3 separate regions of the Homo sapiens genome follow, and regions 2 and 3 are each linked to region 1. Evidence: fine-mapped expression QTL. A gene starts in region 1. Each other region holds a variant in brackets. All regions are shown on one strand. Distances are between the middles of the regions. Region 1 holds the start of L3HYPDH (trans-L-3-hydroxyproline dehydratase). Region 2 overlaps CCDC175 (coiled-coil domain containing 175). Region 3 overlaps LINC01500 (long intergenic non-protein coding RNA 1500).

What was found. PIP is the estimated chance that this variant, and not a neighbour inherited with it, causes the effect.
Region 2: its variant is the best candidate, but not a certain one, in a credible set for the expression of L3HYPDH in whole blood (TOPMed, PIP 0.64).
Region 3: its variant is the best candidate, but not a certain one, in a credible set for the expression of L3HYPDH in ovary (GTEx, PIP 0.87).

Annotation. Positions count from the first base shown.
Region 1 is chr14:59,481,953-59,486,083 of GRCh38, reverse strand. It overlaps L3HYPDH (trans-L-3-hydroxyproline dehydratase), which reads left to right and starts at 1,676. Exons shown (of 5, transcript NM_144581.2): 1 at 1,676-2,275. The coding sequence starts at 1,768. JKAMP (JNK1/MAPK8 associated membrane protein) reads right to left here and starts at 1,567. Exons shown (of 7, transcript NM_016475.5): 1 at 1,491-1,567. The coding sequence starts at 1,494. RefSeq lists an enhancer at 1,322-1,601.
Region 2 is chr14:59,546,143-59,550,273 of GRCh38, reverse strand. All of the region lies in intron 8 of CCDC175 (coiled-coil domain containing 175), which reads left to right. Among named protein-coding and RNA genes, the nearest start is that of CCDC175, 29 kb to the left of the region's middle. The variant A/G (reference allele first, on the strand shown) is at 2,366.
Region 3 is chr14:58,857,071-58,861,201 of GRCh38, reverse strand. The region is part of intron 1 of LINC01500 (long intergenic non-protein coding RNA 1500); the gene reads right to left. Among named protein-coding and RNA genes, the nearest start is that of LINC01500, 31 kb to the right of the region's middle. The variant T/C (reference allele first, on the strand shown) is at 2,196.

The DNA.
Region 1 (4,131 bases):
CTGATCTAAAGGCTTAGGGGAAAAGCAGCTATTCCTTACTTAAAAAAACCCCAACAACTAAGAACCTAATACGTTGTCTTTGACCTTATTCACAAGAAATTATGGAAGTTTTCTTCATCAGTGACATCTGATTCCCTTCATTCATTCATTGATTAAAACAAACAAACAGGCTCGGTGAGGTGGCTCACGCCTGTAATCCCAGCACTTTGGGAGGTCGAGGTGGGCAGATCATGAGGTCAGGAGTTCCAGACCAGCCTGGCCAAAATGGTGAAACCCCGTCTCTACTAAAAATACAAAAATTAGCCTGACGTGGTGGCGCGCGCCTGTAGTCCCAGCTACTGGGGAGGCTGAGGCAGGAGAATCGCTTGAACCCAGGAGGCAGAGGTTGCAGTGAGCCGAGATCGCGCCACTGCACTCCAGCCTGGGCTACAGAAGGAGACTCCGTCTCAAAACAAACTGCGGTCTACATGTGAATTAATTTGAAAAATTATGCATCTTTTGACTATTCTTGAACAATCATTTCCCAAATTATTCACGAATTCACAATCTAGACTGCCTGGTCTACAGTGCCTTCTCTCCTTTCACATTCAAGCAGACTTTTTACTTCCTTCTCCTTATGCTGCTGAGAGAAAAAGAGAAACAGCATTGAATAATATTCCTCCAGTTTAATATTTTCGCTTTTAACAAATTTCGGACTTAGCTTTTTAAACCCACTGGCCTCTTTAATGGGCGCTTATTTTTTTTGTAACCAATTGTAATCACAATGTTCTAAATTAATACATGAAAATGAATATTTCAGGTTTTTCAAGAATGCAGAAGGTAAGGAATTGGAAACTTCTGTATGGGCTTTACATCTAGTAGATGCTTAATAAATACACGTGAATATCAATAATCTAAAGTTTCTCAAAATCCAAGGCCTGAAAACCAGTATGATAAACTGAACTGAAATAAACAGCCTATCACTTACTAAGCAAAACCCAGGCTCCAAGCGACTGTTGAATTTCTCCTTTCATTTCCTTTAGCGAACGATGGCTAAAGTTTTAAGATTCCATTTTTTTGCAGCGGTCCTGCCCTTTGTGACGGGCGCTATAAATCTACGTTTGAGGTTGAAGCAGTAGACAAATTATGCAGCAACTTGCTTCTGCTTTACTGTTTTTTCTGCACTATCACCCGCGTTTTCAATTCCGAAGTCAACCCTCAAGCAAGTGTTCCCTCGACATTAAACTAAGGGACTGAAGAGACATTTCGGACCAAACAACAAAGACCTGGCATTTCGCCGCAGACAGCGCGCCTCCCCTAGTAGCCCGTTGCGGACAGACCACCCCAACCCCGCAGGAGTGCGGAGCCCGGCCCGAGGGCGGGCGGGGTCAAGGGGCGAGCCTGCGCCGCCAACCGAAGGCCGCCTACAAAGAGCCGAGCCCGAGGCCAGCCGTGTAGGAAAGTAGTCGGGACTACCAGAAACGCTTCCCGGGATCTTGGCGACCACTCACCCATGGGCCGCCTGAAGGTTTTTTTCGAGAAGCACTAGATCAGCGGATCTGGCAGCTGCACCGAACATCCGGGCCACAGCGAGCTCGGCGGCTCCGCCTCCCGGTAACCCGGGCGACAGCTCCGAAGTTCCTCCCTCGCTTCCGGGTTTAGGCTCCGAGACCCCGCCCCCCGGACGTGGCTGGTTAGCGTCCCGCCCTCCTCCCGCGGAGTCAGTGGGTGAGGGTCGGGCTTGAAGCCATAGCTGCGGGACCGTACTCGTCTCCCCCGACGCAGACCATGGAGAGCGCGCTGGCGGTGCCCCGGCTGCCCCCGCATGATCCAGGGACGCCGGTGCTGTCGGTGGTGGACATGCACACGGGCGGCGAGCCCTTGCGTATCGTGCTGGCGGGGTGTCCGGAGGTGTCTGGGCCCACCCTGCTGGCCAAGCGGCGCTACATGCGCCAGCACCTTGACCACGTGCGGCGACGGCTCATGTTCGAGCCCCGAGGGCACCGGGACATGTACGGGGCGGTCCTAGTCCCGAGCGAGCTGCCGGACGCGCATCTGGGCGTCCTGTTCCTGCACAACGAGGGCTACAGCTCCATGTGCGGCCACGCAGTGCTGGCGCTGGGCCGCTTCGCTTTGGACTTCGGGCTTGTGCCGGCGCCCCCTGCGGGCACCCGCGAGGCCCGCGTCAATATCCACTGCCCCTGCGGGCTGGTGACCGCCTTCGTGGCATGCGAGGACGGCCGCAGCCACGGACCGGTGCGCTTCCACAGCGTCCCGGCCTTCGTGCTGGCCACAGGTAATGGGCGGGACCTTTCCAGCCCAGGGCAGAGCTGCAACCGGGACGCGACTAACTACATTAACGGTTTTTCTGGGCTGGAACTCTGGCAACTAACCTACTCCGCGAAACCTTGCAATTAATAGAAAGGTAAATCACTGCCAACGTGTGTCAGCAGCCTTGCGTATTTGGTGCGTGTAATTTCGATTTTCCCTGACTCCCATCCGCCTGTGGTTTTGGGAGACCCTTGAGGAGCGAGGAATTGCGTGTTACCCTGACTCAGCGCCTCCCTCTGCACTGGTGAGGCATTCCTAGAGATTTCACCGGTGGATAAAGCAAGGTACGGTGGGGTCAAGGAAAGAGCGAAGAACAGCCAATGTACCAGGGTTCCAGGCTGGCTGAGAATATGCTTGGTAGACACAGAATCACACTTAATAAGTTACTAAACCTGGTCTCCTTTCCTCACCTCCCCCACTTCTTTGAAGAATTAAATGAGAATGAATGAACAAAGCAGTTTATAAATCATTAAGATACGAATGTTGCTTTTCTTTAAGAACAGGAACACACATTGCCTGGTTTCAAATCCTGATAACCCCCTAAAGCTGTGCAACCTTAGGCAAATTACTTAATCTCTCTGTGCCTGTGTTTCTTCTTTTCCCTCATAGAGTTTTTTTGTTAGGATTAAATGAGAGTATGCAAGATACTGTATTCCTGGAGATAGATTGCAAGGTTTATATGATCGCTAAAGTTCCCTAGGCCTATTGAGCCATTAAAAGGTTTTGCTGGATTCTCTAGTACAGATCCTTGTACAGCTTATCATGTAAAGCAGGGCATCTCTATAACCATAACCCTTACAGGAGGGATGACCTGGCAAGCTGGCATCTGGTTTCTCATCAGACTACTACCTCCCAGGAGCTGAATTCTATCAGTAAGAATGCTTTAGTCATTGTGACTGGAAGTGAGCCAGGAGCCAGTTTACCAGGAATAGAGTTATCCTTTTCTTAAAAATCTTCAAGCCATGCAAATCATCTGTTAGAAAGTTGGACCTTGATTCCCCCTGAAGAACTAGGTTTCAGATTAGCCTGATTATGAATGATAACTGATAGAACAGGCACTTTTAGAGCAACCTTAGGCAGCTGAAATCCACGAGTTAACGAAGAATGCCTCTGGAGAAATTGATGCCATTTTCCCAGAGAATGGTGTCACTTCCAGACTGGGAGGCCACTTGAGGGAGACAGAATTTATGTTTACGATTCCATTTTTAAAACCTCAACAGTTTAACTAGCGTGGCTACCAGAATTCCCCCTAGGCAACTCCAGCAGCAGAGTAGAAACACTCTAGACTTCTGTAGGAAATGGCAGCTGGCAGCAGGAACACAAACTACATCTCATTTCTGGGTCAGTTAGGGCAGGGTCAGTCAACCACTTGACCTCAGTAGTTCCTCTCAGTAGTTCCTGAGAGCATCACTGTATGACAGTACAATGATTAGTGGGCATTAATGGTCACTGAGTTAAGAAAATGAAATGCTATATTCTCTACTTTGAAAAATGCATACAAGGCAGACATAGTGTTCAAGGTCACTGCCCCACCTCTCCCCATCTCAGTGACCTTGTGCTAGAGAGTCCATGCCTCAGTATCACAGTCTGCAAAATGAGGATGACAACAGTACCCACCTCAGAGGGTTGCTGAGTTCATCTCCACCCCACCAGGCTAAAATGCAAACTCTTTCTTGTTCACAGTATTCTAAGTGCCTAGAAGAGTAGTCAGTCAATGAATGTTTGTTGAATGAGTAACTAAATAAATGAAATTTGGAGAAGAATATGCTGATTGACAAATGTAAACATCTGGTCCTCTTGAGAAACCTATTGCCACTGGAA
Region 2 (4,131 bases), 64 kb before region 1:
TAAATAAGTATCAGTATTGCTCATAATACGTTATTGAGTGACAAATACTATATTATAAAACAGTAGGCTAGTCATGGTGGCTCACGCCTGTAATTCCAGCACTTTGGGAGGCCTAGGTGAGTGGATCACCTGGGGTCAGGGGTTTGAGATCAGCCTGACCAATATGGTGAAACCCCATTTCTACAAAAATAAAAAATTAGCTGGGTGTGGTGGTGTGCACCTGTAGTCCCAGCTGCTCAGGAGGCTGAGACAGGAGAATTGCTTGAACCTGGGAGACAGAGGTTGCAGTGAGCTGAGATCGCACCACTGCACTCCAGCCTGGGGGCAGAGCAAGAGTCCCTCTAAAAAAGAGAAACAACAGTATGTATGATATGATCCCATTTAATTACTTATACACACAAATATACATACACACTAGACATAACTGAAATTCTTCTTGTCCCTTGTATTGAAGGAGAAATATCCTTAGTATCTCTTCCCAACACCTCATATATCCAAACTTAATTTCCTTTCTTTTCTTTCTTTTTTTTCTTTTTCTTTTTCTTTTTTTTTTTGAGACATAGTCTCACTCTATCACCCAGGCTGGAGTGCAGTGGCATGATCTCAGCTCACTGCAACCTCTGCCTCTGGGGTTCAAGCGATTCTCCTGCCTCAGCCTCCCAAGTGGCTGGGATTACAGGCTTGTGCCATGACACCTGGCTAATTTTTGTACTTTTAATAGAGACAGGGTTTCATTATGTTGGTCAGGCTGGTCTCCAACTCCTGACCTGAAATGATCCACCCACCAGGCTGGAATGCAGTGGCATAGTCACAAATCACTATAGCCTCAACCTCCCAGGCCTAGGTGATCCTCCTGCTGCAGCCTGCTGAATAGCTGAGACTACAGGCACTCAACACCATGCCCAGCTAATTTTTAAATTATTTGCAGAGACAGGTCGCTTTATGTTGCCTCGGCTGGTTGTGAACTCCTCAGTTCAAGCAATCCTCCTGCCTTGGTCTCCCAGAATGCTGGGGATTACAGGCGTGAGCCACCACCCCTAGCCACACATACTTAATTTTAATTGTTCAGGACTTGGGTCAGGTACTCTCTGTCTACATCCTCTATCTTTGTTTTGCCCAAGTCAACCAGGATATAAAATTCACATTTTTCACTAGTTTCTAAAACAAATTTAATTACACTAAGCATTTCATGATCTATTGCAAACTCTGTTGGAAATTTTAGTGGTCATGGGGAGAAATCCTGTTGCAGAGCACAAAGCCATCTTGTTCACCACCTTTTCTTTCTCTCACAGTTCCTCATCTATCTTCTTGCTGTAGGATACCACCCCACATCCAAATTCTTCTCCCTCTTTTACAAAGCATAATATCTGCCTCTGTACCCATGCCCTGAGGCTCATCAGGGATATCAAAGGCAGCTCCCTCCCAGAAGAATGATTTGTACCAATTAAATGCTTTCCATTTTTGCTTTTGTGAGCTATCAGCATGAGAGATGGCTTCCCCTCTGGGCTACTGTGATTCTTTTATTTGCAAGGATACCTAACAACAGACAGAAACCAGACAAGGTTGGTTTGTTGGCTGGTTGGTTGGTTTCGAATTTGTCTTTCATTTTGTGAGCAAAATATTATTTTTCCTCCCATTTGTTTCCTACTGCAGAAGCTAGTAGACAACTTTCTGACAATAACTCCACATTTTCTAGCCCACATGATTTTCTGAACAGTCTAGGACCCCTAAACTGGCATGGCTTACTTGGTCAAAGAGTTTTCCTTTAATCCATAGCCCTTAGCCAAATTCCATGGTTATAAGTGAGTGATCACTTCAAAGAATGCAAGGCTCTTGCTTATTTATTATTTTCACTAGGGTAGAAACTATGGGCTCTTAGTGACATCCAATCATAATTCTCATGAGTTATTGGAGGAACATTCAAAGATTGACATTCAACTCAAACTTTACCTTTTTTTCCCAGCATCTCCCCTCCCTCACCAGCCCTTGGCAACCACCATTCTACTCTCTACTTCTGAGTTCAGTTTTTTTTTAGATTTTGCGTATAATTGGGATCATGTAATATTTGTTTTTCTGTACCTGAATTATTTCACTTAACATGATGTCCTCCAGGTTCATCCATGTTGTCACAAATGACAAGAATTTCTTCTTTTTTAAGGCTGAATATATTCAATTGTGCATGTATACATTTTCTTTATCCATTCATCGGCTGATGAACACCTAGGTTGATTCTACATCTTAGCTACTCTGAATAGTGCTGCAATGAACATAGAAGTACAGATATCTCTTTGCCATACTGATTTCATTTCCTTGGGATATATACCCAGCAGTGGCATTGTTGGATTTAGCTTTGTTATTATAAAAT[A/G]TTACACATTACAGAACAATACATAAACCATAAATATACAATATTTATGTACATATTTTTGATGAATATAATTTATTAATTTTAATGAAGTCCAGTTTATCAATCTTTTTAGTTAATGTTCTCTATGTCCTATGTCATGAGACTATTCTCTTCTGTTACCATTGAGAAGCTTTGTTGTTTGACCTTTCACATTTAAGACTACGAACCATCTGGAATTTATGTGTATGTGCTTTGAGATAGTGGTCAAGATTCATATTTTTCCATAAGGTTGTCCAATTAACCAGCACCATTTACTGAAAATACAATCCTTTCCTTCACTACATTGTGGTCATACTATTGTCATAAATCAAGTATAGATCATAAATGTATATGTGGATTGTTGACTCTATTCATTTGAACTATTCATCTCTCCTCACACTAAAACAATATTGTCTTAATTAGTACCTTTAAAATGAGTTTTTATGGCCAGTGGTATAAATCCTTCACCTTTGTTCTTCAAAAGTGTTCCAGCTATTCTTGACCTTTTCAATTTTGTCACGTTCTTCCAAAAAACCTGTTTGGATTTTGATTGGGATTGTGTTAAATCTGTAAATCAGTTTGAAGAGGGTTTCACATTTTCACAGTATTGAGGCTTCCAATCCGTTAACATGGCATATGTCTTTTGTTTTAGATCTTCTTTGTTCCCTTTGCCTTAGCTGTTCAGTTGCACTATGATGTGTCCAAATTTTCTTTTCATTTTTCCTCCTTGGGATTTATTTGGCTTCTTAAATCTGAGAATTTCTATATTTCATAAGTTCTGCAAAATTTTCAGCCATTATGTCCTCACCTGTTTCTTTTGTCCTATTCTCCCTGTGTTGCCCAGGCTGGTCTCTAACTCCTGGGCTCAAGTGATCCTCCCACCTCCGCCTCTCAAAGTGCTAGGATTACAGGCACGAGCCACCACACCTGGCCTATAGTAGATTTTGATTGCTTTGTTTTACAGTATTGATTTTACTCAAATGTTGAGAAGCTCTAGATATTTGTTCATCTTTTAATTGTGCATTCTTTTTTATTTATTTATTTATTTATTTTTGAGACAGGATCTCACTCTGTCACCCAGACTAGAGTGCAGTGGTATGATCATGGCTCACTGCAGCCTCGGACCTCCCAGTCTCAAGCAATCCTCCTGCCTCAGCCTTCCAAAGGGTGAAGCTCTTTGGAATCCCAGACTAAAATAGTGGGAGGTTTATGTAGGCTCAACACCTGGATGAGCATTACATGTTGGCTTTTGTTCCACTTGCCATGCAAAAAAACCCAAAACTTGGTTTTCAAGTGGTTTCTTCTATGTTAGTAAGTGTTTTCAAGGCAGAGGAATTTTAAGTGCTAGCCTTACCGCTCTGGATTCTTCATTCTCCTAGAATTAGGCCTAGCAATCACCTATTATCCTTTATTTTTTATTTTTATTTTTTTAGATTCAAGCACATGTGCAGGTTTATTACAAGGGTATATTGCATAATGCTGAGATTTGGGCTGCTAATGATCCCGTCACCCAAGTAGTGAACATAATACCCAATAGGTAGTTTTCCAACCCTTCCCCACTTCTTCCCTCCATCTTTTTGGAGTCCCAGTGTCTATTGTTCCCATCTTTGTGTCCATGTATACCTAATATTTAGCTCCTACTTATAAATGAGAATATGCAGTATTTCATTTTCTGCTTCTGCATTAATCCACTTAGGATAATGGCCTCTAGGTGCACCCATGTTGCTAGAAAGGATATGATTTCATTC
Region 3 (4,131 bases), 620 kb after region 1:
CATCTAAGAGAGAACACTGAAATTCAACAGAGGAGTGAAAGGACATACCTAAGACAGGAAGGAGAGGAGCAGCCTGCTCAGCCAAGATTGGCTGGGAGCCTGGAGAGACTCCTCAATGTGGGAAACAGATAAGTGGTCCACATTCCCACTGTGGACTCCTGCAATTATAGCCACAGGAGAGCCCCTTGACCCTCACAGGACCTAAGACCAACATAGGGAGCTGTCTGGAGACTGCACAACAGCATTGTTCCAGAAAGGAAGCTCACACTGAGTCCTATACACCTCCTAAGTCCAAAGCAGCTAGAGCACAACACTATTTTGAGATCCCATTTCCTACCAGTCTGTATCTTGCCCTGGGGAAAAATAGCCCCTGCATCTGCATATCCCCAGAGCCCCAGTGACATTCCCCACCAGCAGCTACTTCCCCTGAAGGGTAACCTACCCATAGCTACTGCCACAGCTGGCTGCTGCCACCATAAGTGCCAAAACACAAGTCACTGGCAGTGACCCGACCCCACCAGCAGAGGGGCATCCATTACAAAAGCCACCCCACACCATGCTGCTACCACTGCCAACTGCTGCCACTGCCAGGATGAAGGCTGAGCTGCCACAGGCAACTTCAACCCAACCCCTAGCAAAGGGGTGGCCATGCACTTTCACACTGCTTGCAGCTGGTGTTGCTGTGGGCTGCTGCAAAGGGGCCGAAGCAATAGCAAAGCATACACCCCTGGCTACCTGCCTGTGGCTGCTCCCAGTGAAAGCAACCCCACCCTCCTAGTAGCAGGCCTACAGCATAGTCACTGCTGCCCCTACCTAAGCATTTCACCAGTGACCTGCAGACTGCCCTGCCCCTGCCTACCACATCCAGTGCCTGAATACACACCAGTGGCGAGGGCTAAAGGCAGGTCCTCCCAGCTGGACTCCATACCCTTAGTATGCAAGCACACTATCTGAGGCATAGAGCCCAATCCACCATCCCACTCCACCATCATAGGCACCTGAGCATTCCTCCTGGGGGCCTGAGGTTGGGCTCACCCAACCTGCTGCTACCACCACAGCTGATACCCACCCATATATGCCATTTGCAGGCCTGGGCACTGGCAAGCACAGCCTGTTGCATATACTGCCAACACAAATGTGAGACACAGAGGGTATCCTGCCACTACTACTGACATCACCTATGCCACGTCTGCAGCCCAGGAGCCCAAGAATTTGCCCACCCATAGTGTCCATGGCTGCCACTCCTGGCACTCTCGAAAGCCACCTGGAGGCCCAAGAATTGGTCTGCCTGGACACAATAACACCAGTGCCAATGTATACCACTCTGGGGCCAAAGAATAAGCATACTCAGCCCACCACTGTACCACAAGGACTGGAAGACGGGCCCACCTGGTATCCCAGTCTCCATTAAAAATTCACCACAACCTCCACTAACAACTGAACCCTAGGCCACCAAGTAAATCACAGGCACCACTAACTCTGTTAATAGCTGAAGAAATCATACACAGACTACACTACTACACACGCCAAGAATCAAAGCCAAAGTGCCCTACCCAATCAACACCATACATACATCTTCAGGGAAAAAGCACCCCATTATGAAAGCAAATTCAAAAAATTGAAAGAGGGACTGCTACACTGATGCACAAATATCAGTGTAAGGACACAAGGAACATAAAAAAGCAAGGAAATACGACATCTCTAAAGGAACACAATAACTCTCCAGCAACAGATTCCAATAAAAAAGAAATTTACAAAATCCCAGAAAAAATCAAAATATTGATATTAAAGAAGCTCAGTGAGATGCAAGAGAATATTGAAAAATAATACAAAAAAGTCAGAAAAACAATTCAGGGTATGAATGAAAAATTCACCAAAGAGATAGATCTCATAAAAAAGAACCAACCATAAATTTTAAAACTGAAGAATTCATTGGATGAATTACAAAATACATTCAAAAGCTTCTACAATAGACTAGACTAGATCAAGAAAAAAAAAAGAAGTTTAAGATGTGAAAATAAGTCTTTTGAAATAACCCAGTCAGACAAAAAAAAAAGAAAACGAATTTAAAAAGAATGAGCAAAGACTACATGACATATGGGAGACCATAAAGCAACCAAATATTCCAATTTCTGTACCCTAGAAGGCAAAAAGAAGACCAAAAGTTTAGAAAACTTATTTCACAAAATAATAGA[T/C]GAAAACTTCCCAAGTCTAGCAAGAGATTTAGACAGACAGATACAGGAGACTCAGAGATCACCAAATAGATACAATTCAGAAAAGTCTTCTCCGTAGCACATTGTGGTCAAACTGTCAAAAGTCAAAGACAAACAGAGAATTCTGAAAACAGCAGAAGAAAAGCATCTAGTCACTTATAAAGGAAACTCCATCAGACTAACAGCAAATTTCTCAGCAGAAACCTACAGACCAGGAGAGAATAGGATGATATATCCAAAGTGCTGAAAGAAAAACAACTGCCATCCAAAGGTACTATACTCAGCAAAGTTGTCTTTCATAAATGAAGAAGACATAAAGTTTTTCCCAGATAAGCAAAAGCTCAGGGAATTCATCAGCGCTAGATTGGTCCTACCAGAAATGCTTAAGGAAGTTCTACACCCAGAAGTGAAAGAACAATATCTACCATCGTGAAAACACACAAAAATATCAAACCCACTGGTAGAGCAAATAGATAAGGAAAAGACTCAAATGTTACCACTACAGAAAACCACCAAACTAAAATAATAAGCAATAAGAGAAAAAAGAAAGGAACAGAGGATATACAAAATGACCAGAAATCAATTACTATGGTGATAGGAATACGCCCTCACATATCAATAATAACCTTGAATATAAACTGATTAAACTTTCCACTTAAAAGATACAGACTATCCAAATGAATTTTTAAAAACTCAAGTATATGCTGCCTATAAGAACCTAATCTCACCTGTAAAGACATACAGACTCTAAATAAAGGGATAGAAAAAGGTATGTCATGCAAACAGAAACCAAAAGTAAGCAGGAGTAGCTGTACTTATATCAGATAAAACAGACTTTAAGTCAAAAACGGTAAAAAGAGATAAAGAATTACTATATCATTGTATAATGATGAGGGGATCAAGTCAGAAAGAGGATATAGCAATTCTAAACATATACGCACCCAACACTGGAGCATGTAGACATATAAAGCACATATGATTAGATCTAAAGGGAAAGACTGACTCCAAAATGACAATAGTTTGGGATTTCAACACCCCACTCGCAACATTAGACAGATCATCTAGATGGAAAATCAACAAAGAAACATTGGATTTATACTGCACATTAGACCAAATGGACCTAACAGACGTTTACAGAACATTTCGTCCAACAGCTATAGAATATACATTCTTCTCTTCGGCACATGGAACATTTTCTAGGCTAGACCATACATTAACACACAAAACAAATATCAAAAAAAAATAAATAGAAATTATATCAAGCATCTTCTCATACCACAATGGAATAAAACTAGAAATTAATAACAGAAACCTTGGAAACTGCACAAACATGCTCTTGAATGACCAACGGATCAAGGAAGAAATTAAGGAGAATATCAAATAATTTATTGAAATAAATGAGAATCAAAACACAAGCTACCAAAAGCTATGGGATAGAGCAAAAGCAATGCTAAGAGGAAGTTTATAGCAATAAATGTCTACATCAAAAAAAAATAGAAAGAATTCAAATAAGCAATCTAATGATGGACCTAAAGAACTAGAAAAGCAGTAACAAACCACATCCAAAATTGTTGTAAGAAAAGAAATAATAAGAATCTGAGTGAACTAAGCAAAATAGAGACTAAAAAAATACAAAGGATCAACAAAATGAAAAGTTGGTTCTTTGAAAAGATAAAATTGATAAACTGTTTGCTGGACTAGCCAAGAAAAAAAGAGAGAAGACTCAAGTAAACAAAATCAGAAATAAAAAAGAAACATTTCAATTGATACCACAAAAATAGGAAAAATTGTCAGAGATGATTATGAATAACTATATATTAACAAACTGGAAACCTAGAGGAAATGGATAAATTCCTGGACACAGACAACCTACCAAGATTGAATCAGGAAGAAATAGAAATCCTGAACAGATCAACAA